Regions from separate parts of the Homo sapiens genome. Here region 2 is linked to region 1. Evidence: fine-mapped expression QTL. A gene starts in region 1. The other region holds a variant in brackets. All regions are shown on one strand. Distances are between the middles of the regions.

What was found.
Region 2: its variant is fine-mapped to the expression of NELFA in gastroesophageal junction (GTEx, PIP 0.90).

The regions. Positions count from the first base shown.
Region 1 is chr4:2,003,114-2,015,053 of GRCh38, forward strand. It overlaps NELFA (negative elongation factor complex member A), which reads right to left and starts at 5,861. Exons shown (of 11, transcript NM_005663.5): 1 at 5,637-5,861. The coding sequence starts at 5,846. It overlaps LOC124900839, which reads right to left. Exons shown (of 4, transcript XM_047416543.1): 4 at 5,893-7,060. The coding sequence starts at 6,648. The coding sequence ends at 5,893. RefSeq lists enhancers at 5,544-6,044, 5,652-6,171 and a silencer at 6,232-6,611.
Region 2 is chr4:1,978,181-1,990,120 of GRCh38, forward strand. It overlaps NSD2 (nuclear receptor binding SET domain protein 2), which reads left to right. Exons shown (of 22, transcript NM_001042424.3): 22 at 458-4,012. The coding sequence ends at 729. It overlaps NELFA (negative elongation factor complex member A), which reads right to left. Exons shown (of 11, transcript NM_005663.5): 3 at 11,528-11,689; 4 at 9,738-9,827; 5 at 8,092-8,222; 6 at 7,934-8,003; 7 at 7,596-7,684; 8 at 6,628-6,739; 9 at 5,668-5,933; 10 at 5,416-5,515; 11 at 4,543-5,323. The coding sequence ends at 5,139. MIR943 (microRNA 943) reads right to left here and starts at 8,297; the gene lies at 8,204-8,297. The variant T/TAACA (reference allele first, on the strand shown) is at 4,825.

The DNA.
Region 1 (11,940 bases):
TAAACATGAAGAAAAGCTCTACGTCACTGATCATCAGAGAAATGCAAATCAAAACCACAATGAGATACCATCTCACGCCAGTCAGAAGGGTGATTACTAAAAAGTCAGGAAACAATAGATGCTAGCGAGGCTGTGGAGAAATAGGAAGGCTTTTACACTTTTGCTGGGAGTGTAAATTAGTTCAACCATTGTGGAAGACAGCATGGCGATTCCTCAAGGATCTAACACCAGAAATACCATTTGACCCAGCAATCCTGTTACTGGATATATACCCAAAGGAATATAAATCATTCTGCTATAAAGACACACGTACAGGTATGTTTACTGCAGCACTGCTTAGAATAGCAAGGACATGGAACCAACCCAAATGCCCATCAATGATGGACTGGATAAAGAAAATGTGATACATATACACCATGGAATACTACGCAGCCATAAAAAGGAATGAGATCCTGTCCTTTGCAGGGACATGGATGAAGCTGGAAGCCATCATCCTCAGCAAACTAACAAAGGAACAGAAAACCAAACATTGCATGTTCTCACTCATAAGTGGCAGGTAGTTGAACACTGAGAACACATGCACACAGAGAGGGGAACAACACACACCAGGGCCTAATAGGGGTGGGAGTGAGGGGAGGGAACTTAAAGGACGGGTCAATAGGTGCAGCAAACCATGGCACACGTATACCTATGTAACAAATCTGCATGTTCTGCATATGCATCCTTTTTTTTTTTTTTTTTTTAAAGAAGAAATAAAGGCCGGGAGCAGTGGCTCATGCCTGTAATCCCAGCACTTTGGGAGGCCAAGGCAGGTGGATCACAAGGTCAAGAGATGGAGACCATCCTGGCCAACACGGTGAAACCCCGTCTCCACTAAAAATACAAAAATTAGCTAATTAGCTGGGCATGGTGGCGCGTGTCTCTAGTCCCAGCTACTCGGGAGGCTGAGGCAGGAGAATCCCTTGAACCTGGGAGGCGCAGGTTGTGGTGAGCCGAGATCGCGCCACTGCACTCCAGCCTGGCGACAGGGCAAGACTCTGTTTCAAAAAAAAGAAAAAAAAAGAAGAAGAAGAAAAAAGAAAACATTACATTAAGTGAAAGAAGTCAGGCACAAAAGACCAGATGTATGATTCTATTTATATAAAATATCCTGAATAGACAAATCTATAGAAGCAAAAAGTAGATTACTAGTCACCTAGGAGTGGGGAGGAAGAGGACTGGGCAAATGCTAATGAGTGTAGGATTTATTTGGGGGATGATGAAAATGTTTGAAAATTGACTAGCATGACCATCAAACCTGTAAATATACTAAAAACTACTGAAGTGTACATTTTAAATGGTGAACTACCTGGCATAATTATATGGTACATAAAATAATATCTTTTTTCTTTTGAGACAGGGTCTCATTCTGTCGGCCAGGCTAGAGTGCAGTGATGCAATCATGGCTCGCCGCATCCTCAACCTCCCAGGCTCAAGTGATCCTCTCGCCACAGCCTCCCAAGTAGCTGGGACCACAGCCATGTGCCGCCACCCCTGGCTAATTTTTATATTTTTTATGGAGACAGGGTTTCACCATATTGCTCAGGCTGATCTCGAATGCCTGGGTTCAAGCAATCCGCCCATCTTGGCCTCCCAAAGTGCTGAGATTACAGGCATGAGCTACTGCACCCAGCTATACATTATATTTTAATAAAGCTTTTTTTTTTTTTTTGGAGACAGAGTCTTGCTGTCGCCCAGGCTGGAGTGCAGTGGCGCGATCTCAGCTCACTGCAAGCTCTGCCTCCTGGGTTCACGGCATTCTTCTGCTTCAGCCTCCCTAGTAGCTGGGACTACAGGCGCCTGCCACCATGCCCGGCTAATTTTTTTGTATTTTTTCTTTAGAGACGGGGTTTCACCATGTTAGCCAGGATGGTCTCGATCTCCTGGCCTCGTGATCCGCCCGCCTCGGCCTCCCAAAGTGCTGGGATTACAGGTGTGAGCTACTGCACCCAGCCAATAAAGCTATTTTAAAAAAATTCATGATTAAAAGATTTTTTTTTACAAGTCTTCTAAGAAGAGAATTTCCTTAACTAGATAAAGGGTATTTATTAAAGACAACAGGAAACATAATGCTCACTGGCAAAACATTCCGAGTTCTCCCTGTGTGATCGGAGGTAAGACAATGAGCTGGAGGGTCCTAGCCAGTCCAGTGAGACGAGAAAAAAAACAAAAGGTAATTGGAGAAAGAAAAATAATATGAAGTGCACAGAAAAATCAAGGAGATTCTATAGAAAAAAAAAATTTTGCAACTAGCAAAACTTTAGCACAGATACTAGTCACAAATTCATTATCCAAAAATCAGGCTGGGCATAGTGGCTCACCTGAGGTCAGGAGTTCGAGAGCAGCCTGGCCAACATGGTGAAACCCCATCTCTACTAAAAATACAAAAATTAGCCAGGTGTGGTGGTGCATGCCTGTAATCCCAGTTACTCGGGAAGCTAAGGTAGGAGAATCACCTGAGCTCAGGAGGAGGAGGTTGCAGTGAGCTGAGATCGCGCCACTGCTCTCCAGCCTGGGTGAGAGAGTGAGATCTCCGTCTAAAAAACAAACAAACAAACAAACAAACAAAAACAAAAATCAACGCATTTCTATATACCAGCAACAAGTAAAAACTAAGACTTTAACAGATACCATTTACAACGGCATGGAAAAATATGAAATAGGTGGTAATATATGAGATGGAAGACCCCTACAGAGATCACAAAGAACATCTAAATAGATAAGCCCACACCCACAAATTATAGGATGCAATATAAAGAGGACAGCACCCCAGAATGAACTGCAAGTTCAGCTCAGCCTTAAAATCCCAGCAGGCAGGCTCTACGTGTTTAAGAAGTAAGTATATAAGATACATGTGGAAGTGTGAAGGGACAAGAATAGCCATAGATGATCCCGGAGAAAGATACAGTGGGAGGGTTTGCTCCGTCCGCTAACAAGGCTTATAAATAAAGTGACAAGAACCGACTTAGTGGGTTATTAGCACATCGATATGTAAATGACCAAAAGAACAGAGCACAGCCCAGAAACACATCCACAGCAGAAGCTGCAGTGCAGATCAATGGAAAAGGACAGTCATTTCAATCAACGTTGGGTGCTGGACTAATTGCACATCCATGTGGAAAATTAGACTCCCTGCTTCACACAATCATCAATTCCACGCAGACTGAAGATTCAAGTGCGAAAGGTAAAACTGTACAGCTACGCCAAGATAACCCAGGGAGTGTTCCGGGCATGTCCCTCGGGGAGACACAATAGGCACCAATGATAGTGGGCGGATGAATACACCATCTATGTTAAAACTAGGAGCTTCTATTCATCCATGATTCCAGGAAAAGGGCTGGGCGCACAGATCACACCTGTAATCCCAACACTATGGGAGGCCAAGGCAGGAGGATCACTTGAGGCTAGGAGTTCAAGACCAGCCTGGGCAATACAGTAAGACCCCCATCTCCATACACATGCACAAAAATTAGCCAGGCGTGGTGGCAGCGCATCAGTCCCAGCTACTACAGAGGTTTAGGAGGGAGGACTGCTTAAGCCCAGGAGTTCAAGGTTAAAGTGAGCTATGATTATACCACTAGACTCTAGCCTGGGTGACAGAGTGAGACGCTGTCTCAAAAAAAAAAAAAAAAAAAAAAAAAAGGATTCCAGGAAGCTAAGTCAAAGTCAAAGGACAACTGGGAGATATTTGTAACTGAAAAAGGACTGATATCTAGCATTTATAATAAATAATAAAAAAGACACTCTTACAAAACAATGGGAAAAAAGAGAATTTAAAAGCAGATTTGAATATACAATTCTCAAAGCAGAAAACCAAACAGCAGGCCGAGTGCCATGGCTCACACCTGTAATCCCAGCCCTTCAGGAGGCTGAGGCAAGCAGATTGCTTGAGGTCAGGAGTTCAAGACCAGCCTGGGCAGCATGGTGAAACCCTGTAGTCCCAGCTACTCAGGAGGCTGAGATGGGAAGATCTGAGGTGAGGAGGTCAAGGCTGCAGTGAGTCACGATGGTGCCACTGCACTCCAGCCTGGTTGACAGCGCCAGACCCTGTCTCAAACAAAACACAAACACAAAAACAAAACACTCTGAAAAATAATTTGGCATGATCCTATGATCCTCACAATTCCACTCCTAGATGTTATACCCTAGAGAAATCCAAGATTCCAAACACCTGAACATATGACCGTAATGTAGTAACGGGATGATTTACAAGAGCACAAAAGCTAAGCGTGTCACTGTGGCAGAATGGATAAAGTGCCTCGTGCTCACAGACAGGAATACCACGCAGCAGTGAAAATTAAACTGCAGTCAGCTGCAACGTGGATGAAACTGTCACGGCGTCGACCAAAAAGACACATGCACGCCACACACAAAATACACTATGATACCATCACACTAACTCCAAATCCGGCAACCAAGCTGTGCCATTTAGGGGTGCATAAATAATTGCTCACACCGGGGAGATGGCACAGAAATGATTACCTTTCCAAAATGAGGAAGGGGAAAGGAAGAAGGCCGTGATTACCAGTGGGAGGCTTCCAAGGAACAGGCATGGTTCTACTTCTCCACCTGTGTAAGGATCACAGGAGTGGCTCGCGATGCTATTATTATTCGTTAAACTGAACAAAAATGCACTTTTCCATACATGTCATATCTCAATCAAAAGCAATTACAACCTATAATAGCTAATAATACATCAGTAGCCAGGAACGTTTAAACAACCATGGGGCTTCAATAGTCTGCAAAACTACTCGGTTTATTTCGCACGGAAAGCGATACAATATAAAGTTTAGGAAAAAAGAAAACAAACCTCACACACCCACTTATTGGAATGACGCAAAACGGCGTGTAGAAAAGAGTAAAACGGACACAGAGCGCTCCGGACGGCCGGGGTCTTTGCGAGGTGAGAACAAGAAAATCCAGTCAGCGGACACTGGAGCTACCGAGCCCAGGCCGCCCCTTCCTCACGCGGGGGTTTCTCTCGGGATCCCCGCCCTCGCCCAGGTCACCAGGGCTGCGTCCCCGACGGGAAACCCCGATGGGAGACCCCGCTGGGGCCGGCGCACCCCCGCTCCAAGAGTCGGTCGCTTCGGCACGGTGGGGGATTAGGGTGGTGAGGACCGAAGGCGGGGGAGGCGGGGGCGGGTGGGGATGAGTACCCGGGGGCCCAGGGAGGGGAGTGAGGACCTGGGGGTCGTAGCGAGAACCCGGGGCCCGGCGGGGAGGAGATTGAGGATCCCAGGGGAGGTGAAAACTTGGGTAGGGGTGAGGACGAAAAGTAGGGAGGTGAGGACCCTAGTGGGGGATTCCCAGGGGGCGAGGAGGGGCGGGGGGTCCTGAAGACCCACGGTGGGGATGAGAACCGAGGTGGGAGATGAGGATCGAGGCGGGGGATGAGGACCCAGGGGGAGGTGAGGACTGGAGGGAGGTATTCGGAGGAGCGAGGAGGGGGCGTGAGGGCGGGCCGGGGGGGTTAACAGTCTGAAGGGGGATGGGAAGGTTGGGGGAGGGAGCGAGGAGGGTCCGGAGTTGGGTGTGCGGGTCGGAGGTGGGAAGGTTGGGAATCTGGGGGCCGCGGGGCGCCACGCCTGCCTTACCTCGTCCACCGTGCGGCGCGGGAGGTGCAGCGTCCCGAGTAGCAACTTGAGCTTCACTGCCGACGAGAGGCCATGGAAGCAGAGACGGATGTTGTCGATGACCGCGGCCGTGAGCAGGGACGCGATGCTGGGCGGCGCCCACAGCTCGTCCGTGGCCCCCAGCTTGTTGTGCAGCCACAGGCCCGTGTCGCTCTCCCGCATGGACGCCATCTTGGGGGAAAGCGCGCGCCGCTGCCCCGGCATCTTATGAAGACACCTACGCGTCCCTCGCTAGGACCCCAACATGGCGGCGCCCGTCGGGCTGCGGGCCGCAGAGGCGGCGCAGGTGGCGCGGTCCCACGAGCGGGGCTTCCCGGGAGAGCGCTTCTGGGTGGCGACCGCGTCTCCGGGTAGCGGCCGCGTCTTCGGGAAGCTTTGTGGCAAAGCCGAGAGCCGGAAGGACGGGGTGCCGCTGAGCAAGGACTATCGGCTTCCGTAAAACATCATGGCGGCGCCCTCTGCTGGCTCTCGGGAAGACCGCAAAAAATGACGTCACGAGCAGGCGCGCGTATTCGCGTCTTGGGAGCCCGGGCTGCGGCCTGGCATTCGCAGTGCAGGTGTCAAGCGCCGCAGACTTGCTGCTCGCGCGGTGGGGCGGAGGCTCCCTGTGGCACCTGCCCCGCTGTCCGCTCTTCGCTTTTTCCCCGCTTGGGTCTCGGCGCGGACCGTGTGGACGCCCCGCCCCCGCGGGCCCAGCACCTGCACGGAGAGGAGCCGCGGCCCTGCGGAGCGAGCCTGCGGGATCCCGGTCGCAGCGCTGAGCTTCCGTCCCCCGCTGAGCCCGCTCTGCCCGTGGCGCGCCGCCGACGGGGCTGCGCTGAGCATGCGGGTCGGAGGGCGCTCGGGAGCTGTCCAGGGGCACTCGTGACCCCACAGTGCAGGGAGGCCCCGGCCCCCAGTCGGGCTGGAGCCGCCAGGCAGGAGCCAGTAGTGAACTTTTCAGTTTTAAAAGCTTGTCATTAGATACAAACATGAGTAAAAGTTAAACTTCATTTTATTAAATTCGTTTTACCCTTTTGTCTTTTTGACGAGGCCTTCCTATGTTGGCCAGGCTGGTCTCAAACTCCTGGGCTCAAGCGATCCGCCCGCCCGCCTCTGCCTCCCAGAGTGCTGGGGTTACAGGTCGGGGCCGCCTTGCTTGGCTTCTGTATTATATCTTTTTTTTAAAAGATCTTTTCCTTATTGTTCCACTGCCATGCTCCTGCCGCCGTTCACAGCTATTGCCACTGGGCGGTGGGAACGCCGGGAGAACAGGGCTCAGCCCAGCTGCTAGCAGTGCCCTGGCCCTGGCGGCTTGAACTTGGCAGTCCTGCGGAAGTCACACGGGGGAAACCCGCAAATGCTACAAATCAGTGCTGGAGCGGTGGTTTTGTTGATTGCTTAAACTGAAGAAAGTGATAGAGAAAATGTTGATGATAAAGATTAAACTTAAAACTGTCATGTCGACAACCGTTACATTGCAAATAGCACATAAAATTTAAGAGAATATTTTTTAAATGATTCAAAAGTGTCGAATTCAGCAAAGACAAGTTATTGACTAATGGGTGAAGTTGTGACATCAGTGGGGCTAGTGCTGAAAGAAGTTTAATGATTAGGCCGGTCACGGTGGCTCACGCCTGTAATCCCAGCACTTTGGGAGGCCAAGGCGGGCGGATCACCTGAGGTCGGGAGTTCGAGACCAGCCTGGCCAGCATGGAGAAACCTCGTCTCTACTAAAAATACAAAACTAGCCGGGCTTGGTGGCGCATGGCTTGCCTGTAAGCCCAGCTACTCGGGAGGCTGAGGCAGGAGAATGGCTTGAACCCGGGAGGCGGAGTCTGCGGTGAGCCGAGATTTTGCCATTGCACTCCAGCCTGGGCCACAAGAGCAAAACTCCCTCTCAAAAAAAAAAAAAAAAGTTTAATAATTATAATCTGAGGGTAAGAAATAGTTTAACAGTGGACGACATATCAAATTTAGTATGAGAAGAGTGAAAGTTACTTCAAGTTGTGAAATCATGATTGAACCGTAAACATTAGTTGGTTGAAATGAAAATTTTTGTTCACAGAAACCTGTGTGCAAACGTTTATAGCAGCTTTATTTATAATAGCCCCAAACTTGAAACAATCCGAATGATTCTGACCCCCAACTGTCTGTAGCTTTCTGTAGGATACGCAGCACTTTTCTGTATACAGTGCTTGATGCATCTTGAGTCTTCAGTTTTATGCAGGAAAAATCCAAGTTAACATCTGGCTTAACCAAGAAGACAAACCACTAGGAGGACTTAGTTACAGCATCAGAAAGCAATGGATTAATATTCAGAATGAAAAAAGGAATGCTTGTAAATCGACGAGAAAAAGACCGACAATAGACAAATGTGCAGAAGATAAGAATAGGCAATTCACAGCCTGGCCATCATAGTGAAACCCCGTTTCTACTAAAAATACGAAAACAGTGGGGCGTGGTGGTTCATGCCTGTCATCCCAGCTACTCAGGAGGCTGAGGCAGGAGAATCGCTTGAACCCAGGAGGCAGAGGTTGGAGGGAGCGGAAATCACACCACTGAACTCAGGCGTGGGCCACAGAGCGAGACTCTGTCTCAAAAAAAAAAAAAAAAAAAAAAGCAATTCGTAGGAGAAACCCAAATACCGGAGAAGCACATGGAGAGATGCTTAAATTCATCAGCAACCTGACAAACCCAAATTAAAATAACAAGATGCCTCATTACACCTATCAGATTGCAAAATTAGAAAGCCAAAGTTTTTTTCATTTTAAAACATGGTATCCAGTTGTTCCCATATTATTTGTCGAAATGACGATCCTTTCTGGACTTTTCTATCCTGACTTACTCATCTATCTTTATGCCAATACCAGACTGTCTTGGTTACTATAGCTTTCTAAAATAAGTGTTGAAATCAGGTAGTGTTAATTCTCTGACTTTTTTTTTTTTAAAGTTATTTGGGTTATTTTAGGTCCTCTGTATTTCCTTTTTTTTTTTTTTTTTTTTTTTTTTTTTTGAGGCAAGGTCTGGCTCTGTTGCCCAAGCTGGAGTGCAGTGATGCAATCTCAGCTTGCTTCAGCCTCTACCTCCTGCGTTCAAGTAATTCTCATGGCTCAGCCTTGCAAGTAGCTGGGAATACAGGCATGCACCACCAAACCTGGCTAATTTTTGTATTTTCAGTAGAGACGGGGTTTCACCCTGTTGGCCAGGCTGGTCTAGAACTCCTGACCGCAAGTGATCCACCCACCTCAGCCTTCCAAAGTGCTGGGATTACAGGTGAGCCACAGTGCCCAGCCTGCATTTCCATATAAATTTTAGAATCGTTTGTCAATTTCTACAAAAAAAAAAAAAGGCTTCTGGCATTTTGAGTGGAATTGTGTTGAATCTGTAGGTCAGTTGAGGGAGAACTGGTAACTTCTGTCTAGTGAACATAGTATTTCTCTCTGTTTATTTGGGTCTTTAAATTCTCTCAGCTAGGCTCATGGCTATGTAATCCCAGCACTTTGGGAGGCCGAGGAGGGTGGATTGCTTGAGCCCAGGAGTTGGAAACCAGCCTCAGTAACGTGGCGAAACCCCATCTCTACAACAAATATAAAAAGCTGGGCTGGTGGTGCGCCTGTAGTCCCAGCTACTTAGGAGGTTGAGGTGGGAGGATCACTTGAGCTCAGGAGTTCAAGACCAGCCTGAGCCACATGGTGGGACTCTGTCTCTAAAAAATTAAAAATAAATTAAAAAATAAATTTTCTCAGCCCCATTTTGTAGTGTTCAATGTAAGGGTCTTGCACATCTTTTCAGAATTGCCTCCAAGTATTGCATAACCTTGATGTGGTTGTAAAGGGTGTTGTTTAAAATTTTTAATTTATCAGTGTTTGTCGCCAGTATATAGAAATACAACAGATTTTTGTGTGTTGATTTTGTATCCTGCAGCCTGGCTAAACGCATTTATTTGTTCCAGTAGTTTTTTCATACATTGTATTAGTTTTCTGCAAAGACAATCATGCCATTTGTGAAGGCAGTTTTATCTTTTTTTCTAATTTATTTGCCTGACTCTGCAACATAAAGAGTCCTTATTTTGGCTGGGCATGGTGGCTCACATCTATAATCCCAGCACTTTGAGAGGCTGAGGCAGGCGGGTCACCTGAGGTCAGGAGTTCGAGACCAGCCTGGCCAACATGGTGAAACCCCATCTCTACTAAAAATACAAAAAATTAGCTGGGCGTGGTGGCAGGCGCTTGTAATTCCAGCTACCCAGGAGGCTGAGGCAGGAGAATCGCTTGAAACCAGGAGGCGGAGGTTGTAGTTAGCGGAGATCGTGCCATTGCACTCCAGCCTGGGCAACAAGAGGGAAACTCCATCTCAAAATCGAGACCAGCCTGGCCAACATGGTAAAACCCCGTCTCTACTAAAAATACAAAAATTAGCTGGACGTGGTGGCAGGCGCCTGTAATCCCAGCTACTTGGGAGGCTGAGGCAGGGGAATTGCTTGAACCCGGGAGGCGAAGGTTGCAGTGAGTTGAGATCGTGCCATTGCACTCCAGCCTGGGCGACCAAAGGGAAAAAAAAAGTCCTTATTTTTACTTTAAAGCAATAAATTTTACAACTTTACTGAATTTCTAAAAAAAAACCCTAGTGGTATTTTGATTGGCTTTCCATTGGGTTTGTAGATTAATTTAGAGAGAACTGACATCTTTATATAGTATATGATACACAGACAAGCTTTCATTTTTCTTTCTTTATGATCTTCAGTAGACGTTACTATTTTTCTCCATACAGTTTTTTTTTTTTTTAAGAGAGGGTCTTACTCTGTTGCCCAGGCTGGAATGCAGTGGTGCGATCTCAGCTCACTGCAGCCTCCGCCTCCCAAGCTCAAGCGATTCTCATGCCTCAGCCTTTCAAGTAGCTGGGACTACAGGCATATGCTACCATGCCCAGCTAATTTTTGTGTTTTTCTCTTTTTTGATATAGAGTCTCGCTCTGTTGGTGAGGCTGGGGTGCAGTGGCGCGATCTCGGCTCGCTGCAACCTCCGCCTCCCGGGGTCAAGCAATTCTCCTGCCTCTCACCTTCCCTAGTAGCCTCCGCCTCCCGGGTTCAAGTGATTCTCATCGCTCAGCCTCCTGAGTAGCTGGGATTACAGGCATGCAACACCAAGCCTGGCTAATTTTTGTATTTTCGGTAGAGACGGGATTTCACCATGTTGGCCAGGCTGGTCTCGAACTCCTGATCTCAGATCCGCCCACCTCGGCCTCCCAAACTGTTGGGATCCAGGTGTGAGCCACCACACCCAGCCTATTTTTGTGGTTTGTTTGTTTGTTTAGTAGAGATGGGGTTTTGCCATGTTGGCCAGGCTGGTCTCCAACTCCTGGCCTTGAGTGATCTCCCCGCCTTGGCCTCCCAAAGTGCTGAGATTATAGGAATGAGCCACCACGCCTGGCCAGTTCTTTCTTACTTATTTTTTTTAGAGATAGCGTCTCACTCTTGCCTAGGCTGGAGTGCAGCCGTACAATCTTGGCTCACTGCAGCCTCATAGCTGAGACTACAGGCGCGTGCCACCATGCCCAGCTAGCTTTTGAAATTTTTGTAGAGATGAAGTCTCACTATGTAGAGATGACGTCTCAAACTCTTGGCCTCAAGCAATCCTCCCACCTTGGCCTGCCAAAGAGCTGGGATAACAGGTGTGCACCACCGCGCCAGGCCTCATACAGTTCCTAATCATTTTCATTAGCTTAACTCAGATGCCTTAGTGTATTTCATGCTCTTATGAATGATATCCTGTATTCTATTTTCCAGTTGGTTATTATGAATACGAGAAATACTATTTTTTAAGTTGGACATACATCCAACAACCTTTATGGACTCCTATATTTATTCTAATAGTGGGTTGATTTAGTTGGTTATTCTGAATATTTCATTTACAGACAATGACAGTTCTGTGTCTTCCATGTATATTTATACTTTTCCTTTATTATTTTTTTGGTATTGGCCAAAGATTCCAGTCCTGTTGAACATTAGCAGGGCAGTAAGAATCCTGTTGTCTTGCTTTCAGTCGTAAAGGTATATGTCCAATTTTTTTTTCACAAGGCAGGGTCTTGCTATATTGCCCAGGCTAGTCTCAAACTCTTGGGCTCAAGGGATCCTCCTGCCTCTGCCTCCCGCCTCTGCCTCCCAAAGTGCTGAGCCTCCACACCTGGCCCATGTCTAAATTTTATCCATGAAATAATCTAAGTTATTAGTGGATCACCTTTGTCCACTTAAGGAAGTTTTCTTGTTTCCTTTATGTTCCAGAGT
Region 2 (11,940 bases), 25 kb before region 1:
ACACACGATAGAGAAAAGTGTTGGCCATGGGTGCGAGAGGGTGGTCCCTAACGTGACAGAGCTTTTACAGAGTCATGCCAGAAAGATGAATACCCAAGTTGAAAATCAGTCCCTTGGGAGAGGGCAGGTCACATGGAAATCAGCACAGCAGCCCCTGCCTGTCCACGCCGCGCTGGGGGACACTCCTGCACCCGGCACAGCTCCTCTCAGTTGCCGAAACATAAAGAGACGCTAACAGGTGGTCCTTAGGGGCCTGGCAGGTACTGTGGAGTCAACAGGCCCTGCCAGGGAGCCCGCCCGGGCTGTGGTAGACAGTTTGTCTGCCCGTCCTGTTCGCTGGAGCCAGCACTATTTTGTGTTCATTTGACCTGACAGTTGTAAGTCATCTTCAACCACGATAATGTTGAAGTCGTGATTCCATCACTTCTGTGTGCTCACATCTTGTGTTCTGTTGCAGGGAAGTGGGAATGTCCTTGGCATCATTGTGACGTGTGTGGCAAACCTTCGACTTCATTTTGCCACCTCTGCCCCAATTCGTTCTGTAAGGAGCACCAGGACGGGACAGCCTTCAGCTGCACCCCGGACGGGCGGTCCTACTGCTGTGAGCATGACTTAGGGGCGGCATCGGTCAGAAGCACCAAGACTGAGAAGCCCCCCCCAGAGCCAGGGAAGCCGAAGGGGAAGAGGCGGCGGCGGAGGGGCTGGCGGAGAGTCACAGAGGGCAAATAGCGCCAGGCGGCCGCTTGGCCGGATCCAGGGGCGGTGCAGGGCGGCCGGCCCTGCCTGCGGGAGAGGGCGAGCATGAACTGGCCCGGAGGACCCAGCTCGAGCCGCCAGGACACAGACGTACAGGCCTCCTCGGGAGGGAGCGCCTCCCCACCACTGAGCCATCCTCAGCAGCGTCCGCTGCGTCTGCACTGATGACCGTCTGAGCCCAGCTCAGCGTTCCTGGACAAACAGCCTCACTCCTCAGCGTTACCGCCACACTTGAATTTCTCCGAATGTCAAGGTTCCCTCCCACTCTATTTTTTTAGGTTAAAGTTAATTGGCATATGGAATGTTTTAATCTCCTCTGAAATGTGTAGCGTAGGCTTTTCCCAAGGGTCGCTAGAAACTCGTCTTCGCGTTGCCCCCTTTCTGGCTCTCAGCGCCGTCGCCACTCGGGAGAGGCTGGGTGAGGCCCGTGTGAGGACTGACCCTGGATTCCTCGAAACTGCCATTGTGATCATTACTCTGCTCTTTGGAAATGGCTGTATCATTTTTTTGTACTAATGTGAATTGTTCCTCAGAAACGCTTCTTTTCCATCCTAGTGAGAAGCTGGCCCTGCAGGTGGTGGCAGCAATGGTGTTGTAAGATTTCCTCCCGTAGTTTTTTCTCCTCATGGATTTGAATGAAATGCCAATAACACGTCCACTTTCAACGTGTAGTTTACGCGGAGCACTTTCGAGGCCTGGCCGGGTTGGGCCTACTTCTCACCTGGGCCTATCTTCTGAACTCGCTAGGTTCTTATCAACATTTGGGGGATAACTTTGTATATTTTTTTCATTTGGCTTTTCTTTACCAGTTTCTGATTTTTATTCTCAATATATTTTTGCTAAACCTATTTCACAAATCACCACCGACTGAAGTGTGTGTTTACTGATGCGGCCCTGAGCTCCATGGCGAAAGGAGTGACTTTGCAGGGCGTGAGACCGCAGTCTGCTTAGAGCACAGGAAGTGACAACTTAGGGAGCCCCGTAGGGCGCTGCAGGCCCCGGGGACCCCAGCACGTGGGTCTAAAGAGAGACGGAGTCTAGCTCTCCTGCCACCCAGAGTGGCTTCCATCTCAGCACTCTGTGGGTCTGGTGATGGAAGATGCAGTCTCTGCTGATCACATGTGCCCTCTGCCAGGGCACCTACTGAGAGGTGCGGTCCTGGGGGTGGAGGCCTGCCTGGCAGGTGTGCGTGCCTCGTACGTGTGTTATGGGCACTGGTCTAGGCCAGGTATGACACCCACTCTCCTGTGAGATTTCACTTTAGTTTTTAAAAGGTCCAGTTCTACAGAGTGAGACCTATCTATCTGAGTACTACATATGTTTTAAGACTTGGTTCTTTTTTTGAGGGATCCTTGACCCTGGGAAGTCTGGAGCACCCTGAGAAGGGGGCACCATGTGTGCCTTTGCCCACGTGTCCTGAGGGGCTGCTTGTCTGGGAGGGAGGGAGAGAACATTCAGCAGCAGGTGCTTTTTTATGGCCTTTTCTTAAAATAACCTAAGGGGGACACATCCATCTTGCAGAGAAGTTTACAGAACTCCCCTTGAAAACTGCTGCTGAGGCTCCTGTTAAATTTTCTGTGGCATCTTTTATGCCTTGGTAAAAACTGCAGTGTCTTTGGACCTGAGAGTGGCTACTCCGTGGTTTTGTGACCTGTAAGCGTGGGGTTCAGGGGTGTGTGGCCCTGCAGGGTCCCACGCCTCCCTGAGCACTGACTGGAAGTTTCACTGGCTGGTGGCTGTCCCTTCTCCCATCAGGGTCCCCAGCAAAGTTAACTACACAGAGGACCCAGGGGAAACGAGCTGTGTAGCCACTGACTTGCTCGCGCGGCCGTGGCCTCTGAGGGGCACTCGCCGGTTAAGACAGGGTGGGAGTAGTGCTTTCCAGTTCAGACTCTAACTTCTCCCAAAGTGTCCTAAGAAAATACTGGATCGGCTCATAGATTTATGCTCCTTATGATGCCCTAACTTGGAAGGTTGTTCTAGGGACAGGCCGGGCAGTGTCCCCACACACACCTTAGAGTCGAAGGCCCCAGGGCCCCGCTGTCACTTGCCCAAAAGATCCCTTCCGGCAGGTAAGGGACTACCAATGCTTACGTCAAAACAGCAGAATCGGCTTTGCAGTGCACTTTGGGGAGCAGATATTAACTTATTTTTGTGTTGGACAGTAGTGAAATCTTGTGATTTTTAATCGCTTTGATAATACTTCCAAATTTTATGATTTTTCTGAAGGAAATAATGCAAACATTTTAAATATGTTTCTCCCCCTTTCCAAAAACTGTTAAACTAATGAGCAAGTAACACTAACTTTGAATGTCTCTACAATACCCGTTGATAACTCAGTGGAGCCAGGCTTTGGGGTAGCGGCCCTGAGCTTGCAGGGTTTCTCGCCACTGGGGCTGACCACGCCCCCAGCTGTGACCGTGGGTGTGGCTGGCTCTCGGCCCTGCCCAGCTTTGTTCTGAGGACGTGGTGACTTCCTGAACATCAGCTTCAATCCTCCATCATTAATGTGAAGCAAAACACAAAAACCGCCCCAATCCCTCAGGATTCCTTGGCATCCGAAACCAGCATCTGCACCTAAACCCATACCCACCCGTGTGCGCCCACAGGGGGATGTGTCCGAATGGGCAGCTTAAAATGTGGTCACCTGTGGGGGAAACTCTTCAGGCACCTGAAGTGAGAACCCAGCTGTCCGTCCTCAGGCCGGCCTTTCTTCCGGCGACACCCGTCCATGGCTGGCTGGGTCCCCTTCGCAGTGTTTGTCTGTCTTGACATCTAAACCCCGGCGTGTGCAGTGCCCATCTTCCAGGACTACCTTATTTTCCAGAATTAAACCTGTTTTATAATTCAAGTTAATGCAAATGACTGTCAGTTGCCAAATATCTTGATCCTATGAGTGTAGTTGATGACTGTTTGTTAGTCAGTAGAGTAAAATGCTGTGTCCACGGGGTGTCACAGCCTCACCATACCCTGTTGAGGTGTGAAATGCCCCGTCAGAAATTAAATACAAACTTAAATGTGCCTATTGGTGTCTAAACTTCATACAATGTAAGGTCAGATTCCTTTTAGGAATACTGGGTGCTGTCACCAGGTTTGATAGTTAGACTTAAAAACTTGAAATTCACTTTTTGGGGGGAGGGATATACTGAAATAGAGAGTTGAGACTTGCCAGTTGGGGGAAAATAGCATTTAAAATGGAAAGCTGTGTTTGGAAAATTGTGTATGAGTATTTTTGTATTAAAAACATTTTAAAGGCTTTTTTCTTAACTTATTTTATATGGGATTGTTTGATTTTTTTTCCAGTTACTTTGAATTGCAAAGCATCGGGTGTGGCACTGATGCCTCCGATGGGTGGGGCTCCCTGTCCTGACTGTGTCATTTTGCCTTTGACCTGACCCGCTGGGGAGAGGCAGTGCCACCTTGGGAAGTATAACAACAAATACTGGAAATAGCAGGCATAACTGACTGACTTTGGAAAAATGCTTTCTTCTTCTTTCAGAAATAATTTGCTTCCCAAATTCCCATTAAGGGTGAAATGGTCTAGAGAGAAGGAAGCACTGCTGTCCCCCAGCCCTGCAGTCGGCTGAGCCGGGTGGTCCCCAGGCCCACAGCCAAGTAAGTCAAGGGAGTACCCCGAGGGCTGATCCTACCTGTTCCCCACCCTGTGGGCCAGGGTGTCCTAGGAAGCCCCCAGCCCTGGCCCACCCCGTCCTGATGGCCGCCTAGGGAGGGACTGGGTCCCCGGAGCAGGGAGGACAAGCTGGCCCCAAACACAGCTATGGTGGCTTTCTTTAGAAAAGCTCGACTTTAATGGTTCAGATAGTTTTACAATGAAAATAGGTACCCAAAGACTGTCTTAAATGTCCACAACTATACAAAAGATGAATACAAAACTCCCAGGCAGGCACAGGCAGGGGACAAGGCCCACCGTCTCCCACGCTCTGGTGTGGTCGGGTGTCCCTGCCGCACCCCCAGTACCACCGTGCCACCTTGGTCCCCTCAACCCTGGGGGTAGGAGGGCACTGCCCCAGCGAGGGAAAATAGAAAAGATTTTAAAAAGTAAGAGTC[T/TAACA]AACAGGCAGAGCTGTCACTAAAATTAGGAAGTTGTAACTTTTTTGGTTAATTTACTTACTACATTCAAAAATGTAACGTTGAGTCCAAAAAGTGTCTTAAATCACACAAAAAAGAACCCATATTAAAATTTTAAAAATAAGCCCCAAATACCCCAGAGAAATGCATCCAGAACTTAAAACAGGCTGGGTCAGCAGCAGGGCGGCGGCCGGGGGACCTCGGGGGCCAGGTGTCCGCCATCCGGTTACTTTAAGCTGGCAAAGCCATCGTCCCGTGGACCCCCACAAGTGACGGCCAGCTGTGAGGCAGGTGGTTCTAGGACACATTGGTCATGGGCTTGTACTTCTTGAAGCGCGTCCACTGGCCCGTGGCATAGTTCATCTCAAACACTGTGTCCACCAGCATGGTTGTGCTACCCTGGCCGTCCGCCTTGGGCAGGTCCTCCGTGTGCTCGCTCAGCTTGATCTGGATCACGTCCCCCTGCTCCTGGCACGGGTTCTCTGCAGAGAGCAGGAGCTGCTGGGTGGGTGTCTGGGGGCACCCGCCCCCAACCCGGCCCGGTGCACCCCCAGGCCCTGCCTTATGAACATACCTCGGGAGCCGGCCATGAAGCCCAGGATGAGGGCCTTCTCGGGCCGCGTGACTTTGTTGGCCGTCTTGAACATCTCCTGGGCAGCGAACATCTGCTCTCTCTACAGCGGGGAGAGGGGTGTGGGTGCCAGGGCCCCGCCAGGACCACCTCCTGCATCCCCCTGCAGGCACCGTGGCACCCCCACGCTAGGGGAGGTGGCCAGGGCCGTACCACCTACCTGGTGGCCTGTGGGCCCTACCAGTGTACACCTACCGTGAGGGACAGGTTCTTCTTAGGCTGCTGCTGAGCAGGGGCCTGGGTCTGCGGGGCCACCATGGCAACCGGGGGTGTCTGAGTGGTAGGGGCGACAGCCGGAGGTGTGGTGGGTGTCAGAGGCGAGGTGGGCGCCGCAGGCGTGGGTGTGGCAGGGCTCAGGCCGCTGTTGTACATGGGCGCCCGCTGCTTGAACTGCGCTGGCAACGTGGGGCTCGGGGCGCTGGGCTCCTCTGGTGGGCGGCTGGCTTCCCGGGAAGATGGGGCTGCAAGTAGACCGGGGCCTGGTGAGGGGGCTGGACCCCCACCCTGTTCCCAAACCCTAGTGCTCCTGGAGGTGACAGGCTCAGCTCCCCTTCTCTGTCCTGCTACCCTCTGACAAGAACTCCCTGTGGCCCCCAGCCAAGGCACAGGCCCCAGAAGCCCCAGCCAGAGGAACAAGGCCAGTGGTCTCAGGCCTTTCCAGACTCGCAGATAAGATGTCTGGACTCTGGCCAGCTGCTGGCCTGCAGCAGGTCCCCATACCGTAGGCACTGCTGGGAAGACAGGAAGGCTGTATCCTCAAGCCCCTTGGGCCCAGGACCTGGCCTGAGGTGCTGTGAGCCTGGCAGTGCCCTCCGTCTGGGAGGGGATGGCTCTCAGCTCCCCTCCCGCCTACCCAGCAACAAGAGCTGGGTCACCTGGCAGAAAACCCTTTCGAACCCAATCCCCTTCCTGCCGTGTCCCCTGGGGCCGCTGCCTGTCTGTGCCCAGGACGGGCAGGGTGGGGCAAAGCAGCTGGTTTATGTCTTGGAGCTCAAGCTGAACAGCGGGGCATCTGCCCCCAGCAGATTCTGGCTGAGGCAGAAGGGGGACAACAGAGATGCAGGAGTGAGAACCGCAGCCCTGGCAGCGCCCGTGGGCAAGGTCATGTCCTGGCAGGCAGCTTGGCTGGTTCCAGGCTGGGGCCAGCAGACTCACCTGGGGGCGTCTCGGAGCTGGGGATGTAGGAGGAGGCGGGAACCACGCTGGGCGTGGAGGGAAGGTAGCTCGTGGAGGGCAGCGCAGGCTCATTGTTCAGGGACCCAAGTTTCTGGAACACAGAGTTTAAGGTTCCTTCCAGAAGAGGCCATGCTTCCGGCATGTGCTAACACATGGCCCGACCCGGAGCTCCACTGCCACAGGCTGTGGCCCCCCGAGCTAGAGCAGGAAGGCGGGGGCCACTCTCCCGAGCTCCCTGGGCTAGACAACGGGACCCCTGGCCCCTGGCGCCCCAGCAGAGTTGGGGACTGAGCCGCTCCTGTGTAGGAGAGGGGAGGGGTTGAGGAGCCCAAACAGCCCATCTTGAGCACAGAAGGAGCGATGCTTTTTCTTACCACGAAGCGTTGATATAAAGGAAGATGCTCATGTTAAGAAACACAGAACACGCAGCGGCGGGAAGAAAGGAGCTTATTATCCTGAAGTGACCCCACAGTGTGGCCTCCTCCAGGCCCTGGCCTCAGACGACCCACTGCAGCCTCTGTGCACCTGCCGCGCCCCGTGGCTGCCTCCCACCCGCAGGCAGGGCCTGGTCTCCGGGACACTGAGGCCTCTGACCACCCAGCACCCCCACAGGCCTGTCCTGCACCCATTCACGGCCACGTGCAAGGCTTAGGTCCCACCAGCCCTGCCTGACGGGACACTGAGGCACAGGGTTGAGGAGGACTCCCCTGGCAGCCCCTCCAGCAAGCGTGGGGCAGGTTCCCGCTCCAAGCCTGAGTCAGATGCCCATGTCAGGGCACGGCCCACACTGCCTCTCATGTACATATACGTATATATACATAAATACAGACTGCACACATATGTACATACATATATATATTCTCCGACAGAGCACACTAGTGGCCACAATCGGAACAAAAGGGGCACCCGCAGTGGTGCCAGACATGGGGTGCAGCCCCGAGCCCTACCTGCGTGGACACCAGGCCGGCTGCGTAGTCCGGGGTGGCGTTCTCCACCACCGTTTCCTCCTTGGCCGGCTTCTCCACCACCTCCGCATCTGTGGACAAAACAGGAGTCCTCGCCAGTGCCCGGGCGCGTCTGCAGTGTCAGCTCAGGGCAGCGGCAGGGAATCAAACAGCTTCCCAGGGGAGGCCACCAAGGAGCGAGGAGAAAAGCAGGCACCCACCCACGGAGAGCAGCCTCACGGGGCACAGCCCTGCCCGCCGAGCGTGGGCACAACCCACCCCAACTGGGCAGGGCCCGCAGGGACCCCCATTGCCGCCGACACGCAGGCCCCAACCCCCACCGAGAGTCTTCCTTCTCCGCTTCGCCTCTCGGCCAGCGCCAACCATATCCAGCTCAGAGATGTCCAGCAGCTGCCAAGACAAGCACAGCCCTGCCTTAGTGACGGCACCAGGGCGCAACGGGCCCCGGGGTGCCACAGGAGCTGGGGGACGGGCCTACCTTCACACCTCGTTCCTTCCGCAGCAGCGTCCTGGAAGGCGGGATGGGGGTCCGGTTCCCTGTGGGGCTGAAGACGCTGGGCGCCGTGGGGCTTCTGAAGGGCGCCTGCTTCGGGATGCCTTTGAGTGGGGCTGGAGGACGGCAACAGTCAGGGCGCCAGCAGCAGTGACCGGCAAACGTCCCCCACCCCGAGCTCAGAACGTCCCACCCTCTTCTAGGCTAGCGCCGCAGAGGGGAAGGGCCAAACCCCTGGCGGGCAGCGGGCAGGACCCCCAGGATCCCGGACCTCAAGGAGCAGGGGAACGCCTGGAGCCACGACCTCACACTTTGCCAAGACACCAAACAAAGACAGCGGCACCCCAGCCCAGCCACAGGATCTCACCAGGTGGAGTCTCTCACCAGTGTGGCGGGGGCTGAGCTCTGCCTCCTTCCTGTGCCTCCACCGGCAGGGGCATGAAGCCAGGCGCCTGGGCTTGAGGGCCGCCCTCCCAAGCCTTCTCCCCGTCCCCTGAGGACACTCCTGAGGCCTACCTACGCTGTTACCCACCAGCGCCCACACGCACCCTCCAAGGCGTGCGTGGCTCTCATGGTGCCAGGCCCGGAGAGAGGACGCCCGGGGGATGGTGCCATCAGCACACCGGGCCAGGCTGGACACACTGCTCAACGGCTGGCCCACCCTCCCTGGGCCAGCAGGTGCAGCCCTGGCCCTGGGATGCCTGGTGGGGGTGGAAAGACAAGGGTCTGCTCCAGGCGGGGTAGAGGAGAGCAAGGTGGAACCTCGGCTGCGGTGGGCAGGAACATGACCCAGGGACGGCCCCCCACACAGCGACAATAGTCAGCAGACCCAAGATGCCTTCTACTAGGTCCCATGTGAACACTGTGGGATTATGGGAGCCCAAATAAACTAAGCCAGGCTGGTCTGGGAGCTGCATGGAGAGCGCCTGTAAGGCTGCCCTTTCAGCCCCACCCATCTGCAAGTTTACCCAGCTGTCTCAGCACAGGACGACACCCGTCCTGCCCTCTGGCCCCCAGGTCACTATCCAGCACCCTCTGGGGTGAGTATGCCCTGCCATGGTTCCCAGGGGCACGCCGTCTTCCTGTGATCAGGGTGCATCCTGCTTAAGCTCACGCCCAGCCCTGAGAGCACAAATCAGGAAGGGCAGATGGAGGGGTGCGGGGGGCACAGCCCCACGGGCAGCTGAGCACGGTCACGTCCTCCCCGCGGAGCCGCCCAGGGACACTCGGAACCCAAGAGCAGCACTTGGGGCCGAAAGCCCGAGCTGGGAAGGCCGAGAGCCACCGGTGCCAACAGCAGAGGAGCAGGGGCCAGCACTGTCCTCAGATCCCGGCCTTCCTGTCTCCATGCCCAGCGGTGTCCTCAGATCCCGGCCTTCCTGTCTCCGTGCCCAGCACTGTCCTCAGATCCCGGCCCTCCTGTCTCCGTGCCCACACATCCTCCCAGGGAGCTCCCCAAGGGGAGAAGCCGGTGAAATTGCCCCAGTGCCTTCGCTTTCCCACGGGCTCCCAACACTGCTGCCTGAAGACCATTCACAGGCACCACCTCCCCAACAGGGAGCGGGTCTCCAGGTGAAGCCCTTAGCTCTGCCCCAAAAGCAAGGCTCACGGCACCAGGGTGGGGGCCTTACTGGTGGTGTCCATCTTCCGCAGCAGCCCCCGGCCCTTGGCGTGGAAGGGCACCCCGGCGCTCCGCTTCAACTGCTGGGCGGTCTCCGTGGCTGGAAGGAAGAGGTCACATATGTCAGGGATCCTCAGAGCGAGAGCCCTTGGCCCTTGTAAAAACATCTCTGTCAAGTGGATTCATCCGACGGCCTGAGCCGTGAACGCTGCATTCTCTCTAAATGAGCAGCTGTTCCGAGCCGGGCCTGACACCAGCTCGCACTTTACAACGAGTCAGAAACTCACTCAGGTGAGCAAGTTTCGGGAGCTGGGTGGCTGTGGCTGCACCTCCCAGGACCCCATGGCAGGGGGGAGGCAGCCGAGGAGGAGCTGAGGGACCTCATGAGCCCTCTCCATCGACCCGGGCCTCCCCCTGGCCCAGTGGTAGCACCGTCCTCGCTGAGGGTCAGCAGGCACGGTCTAGATACAAAAATATGAGGAAGAAACAAACGAAGAGATATTCCTGACTTGGTTCAGTGTGGCTGAAGGGTCAGGGGACACCGAGTGCCCAAAGCAGACCCTGTGGCCACTGCTGGCCTCCAAAGGGGGTGGGGCCCAAGGGGCCAGCAGAGTCCTTCCTGGGCTACCCAGTGGGCCCGGGGCTGCACGGAGCCTCCCGGACAGCGCTGGGCCCTGGCTGCTGCCCGTTCCAGCCAAGATCCATGCACAGCTGCTGTCAGCCTTTTATTTGGATTCTCTGGAAACGGGGTATTGATGTACATTATAAATATTAATTCCATAACCATTCAAAATAAAACGATGTTATTGAAATCTTTGTCGTGCTTTGGGAAAACGTTAACTGAAATGATTAAATATCTTTCAAGTGGAATTGAGATCACCCGCCACTCCAGAAGGCAGCAACGTGAGAGTAAGGAACGTGCCCCTCCAGCCATTCACCCTGGCACCCACCGTGCCCAACAGCGTGACTCAGCTGGCACAGAGTTCATTTGGTCACAGAGATTAGAGATGCCTTCACCTAAAATTCTGAAGTTGGTGGGTTTTTTTTTTTTTTTTGAGATGTTGTTTCGCTCTTGTTGCCCAGGCTGGAGTGCAGTGGGGCAATCTTGGCTCACTGCAACCTCCGCCTCCCAGGTTCAAGTGATTCTCTTGCCTCAGCCTCCCAAGCAACTGGGATTACAGGCATGCACCACCACAGCCAGCTAATTTTTGTATTTTTAGTAGAGACGGGGTTTCACCATGTGGGCCAGGCTGGTCTCGATCTCCTGACCTCAGGTGATCTGCTGGCCTCAGCCTCCCAAAGTGCTGGGTTTACAGGTGTGAGCCACCATGCCCAGCCTAAATTCTGAAGTTTTTAAAGCATGTTTTCAGAACATAAAGTTTAATATAGTGATAAACTTCTAACAAAAAACTTTATGCAGAACTTTATCTTCTTTTTCTTGAGACAGGGTCTCACTCTCTCCCAGGCTGGAGTGTAGTGGTGTGATCACAGCTCACTGCAGCCTCAACCTCGTGGGCTCAGGTGATCCTCCTACCTCAGCCTTCCGAGTAGCTGGGAGCACAGGCACGCACCACCATGCCCGGCTAATGTTTTGGTACTTTTGGTAGAGATGGGGTTTCTTGGCTGGTCTCAAACTCCTGGGCTCAAACGACCCACCTGCCCCAGCCTCCCAACAGGTGTGAGCCACCATGCCTGGCCCAGAACGCCACCTTGAAGGGGCAGTCTTGGTACCTTAGAACCTAAGAAACCTATGACTGGAAACTACAAAGACAATGCCCGATGGCGGCCGCGGCCACTCACACTTCTGCAGCAGCTCCGCCCGCAGCGTGGCGCTCTTGGGTTTCCGCTTTAACTGAAAATGCTTCACCGGGGGAGTGAGGGGTCCCGCGAGGGTCGTCAGGGCGTTTTTGTTCAAGTACTGGCACTCCAGTGGCAGCATGGCAGACGCTTCACACTCACCCACTGCCGGTAAGAACCACATGAAGTTAGGGGCGCCCAGGCCGCAGACCTCCCGGCTGAGAGGAGCTGGCGGCTGCCCAGCCCCACACCCTCCTCAGTTAGGGTTAGGTCATGGGAGCTTCGGCTGTCCCCTGAGGTCCTCGAGACTGACTCCCCACGGCTCCAGCAGAACACCCAGGAGCATTTGCAGAACAGGAATGCCTGAGAGGCGGGCATGCCTTGAGAGGGCTGTAAACTGGAAACCTCTGGCACCG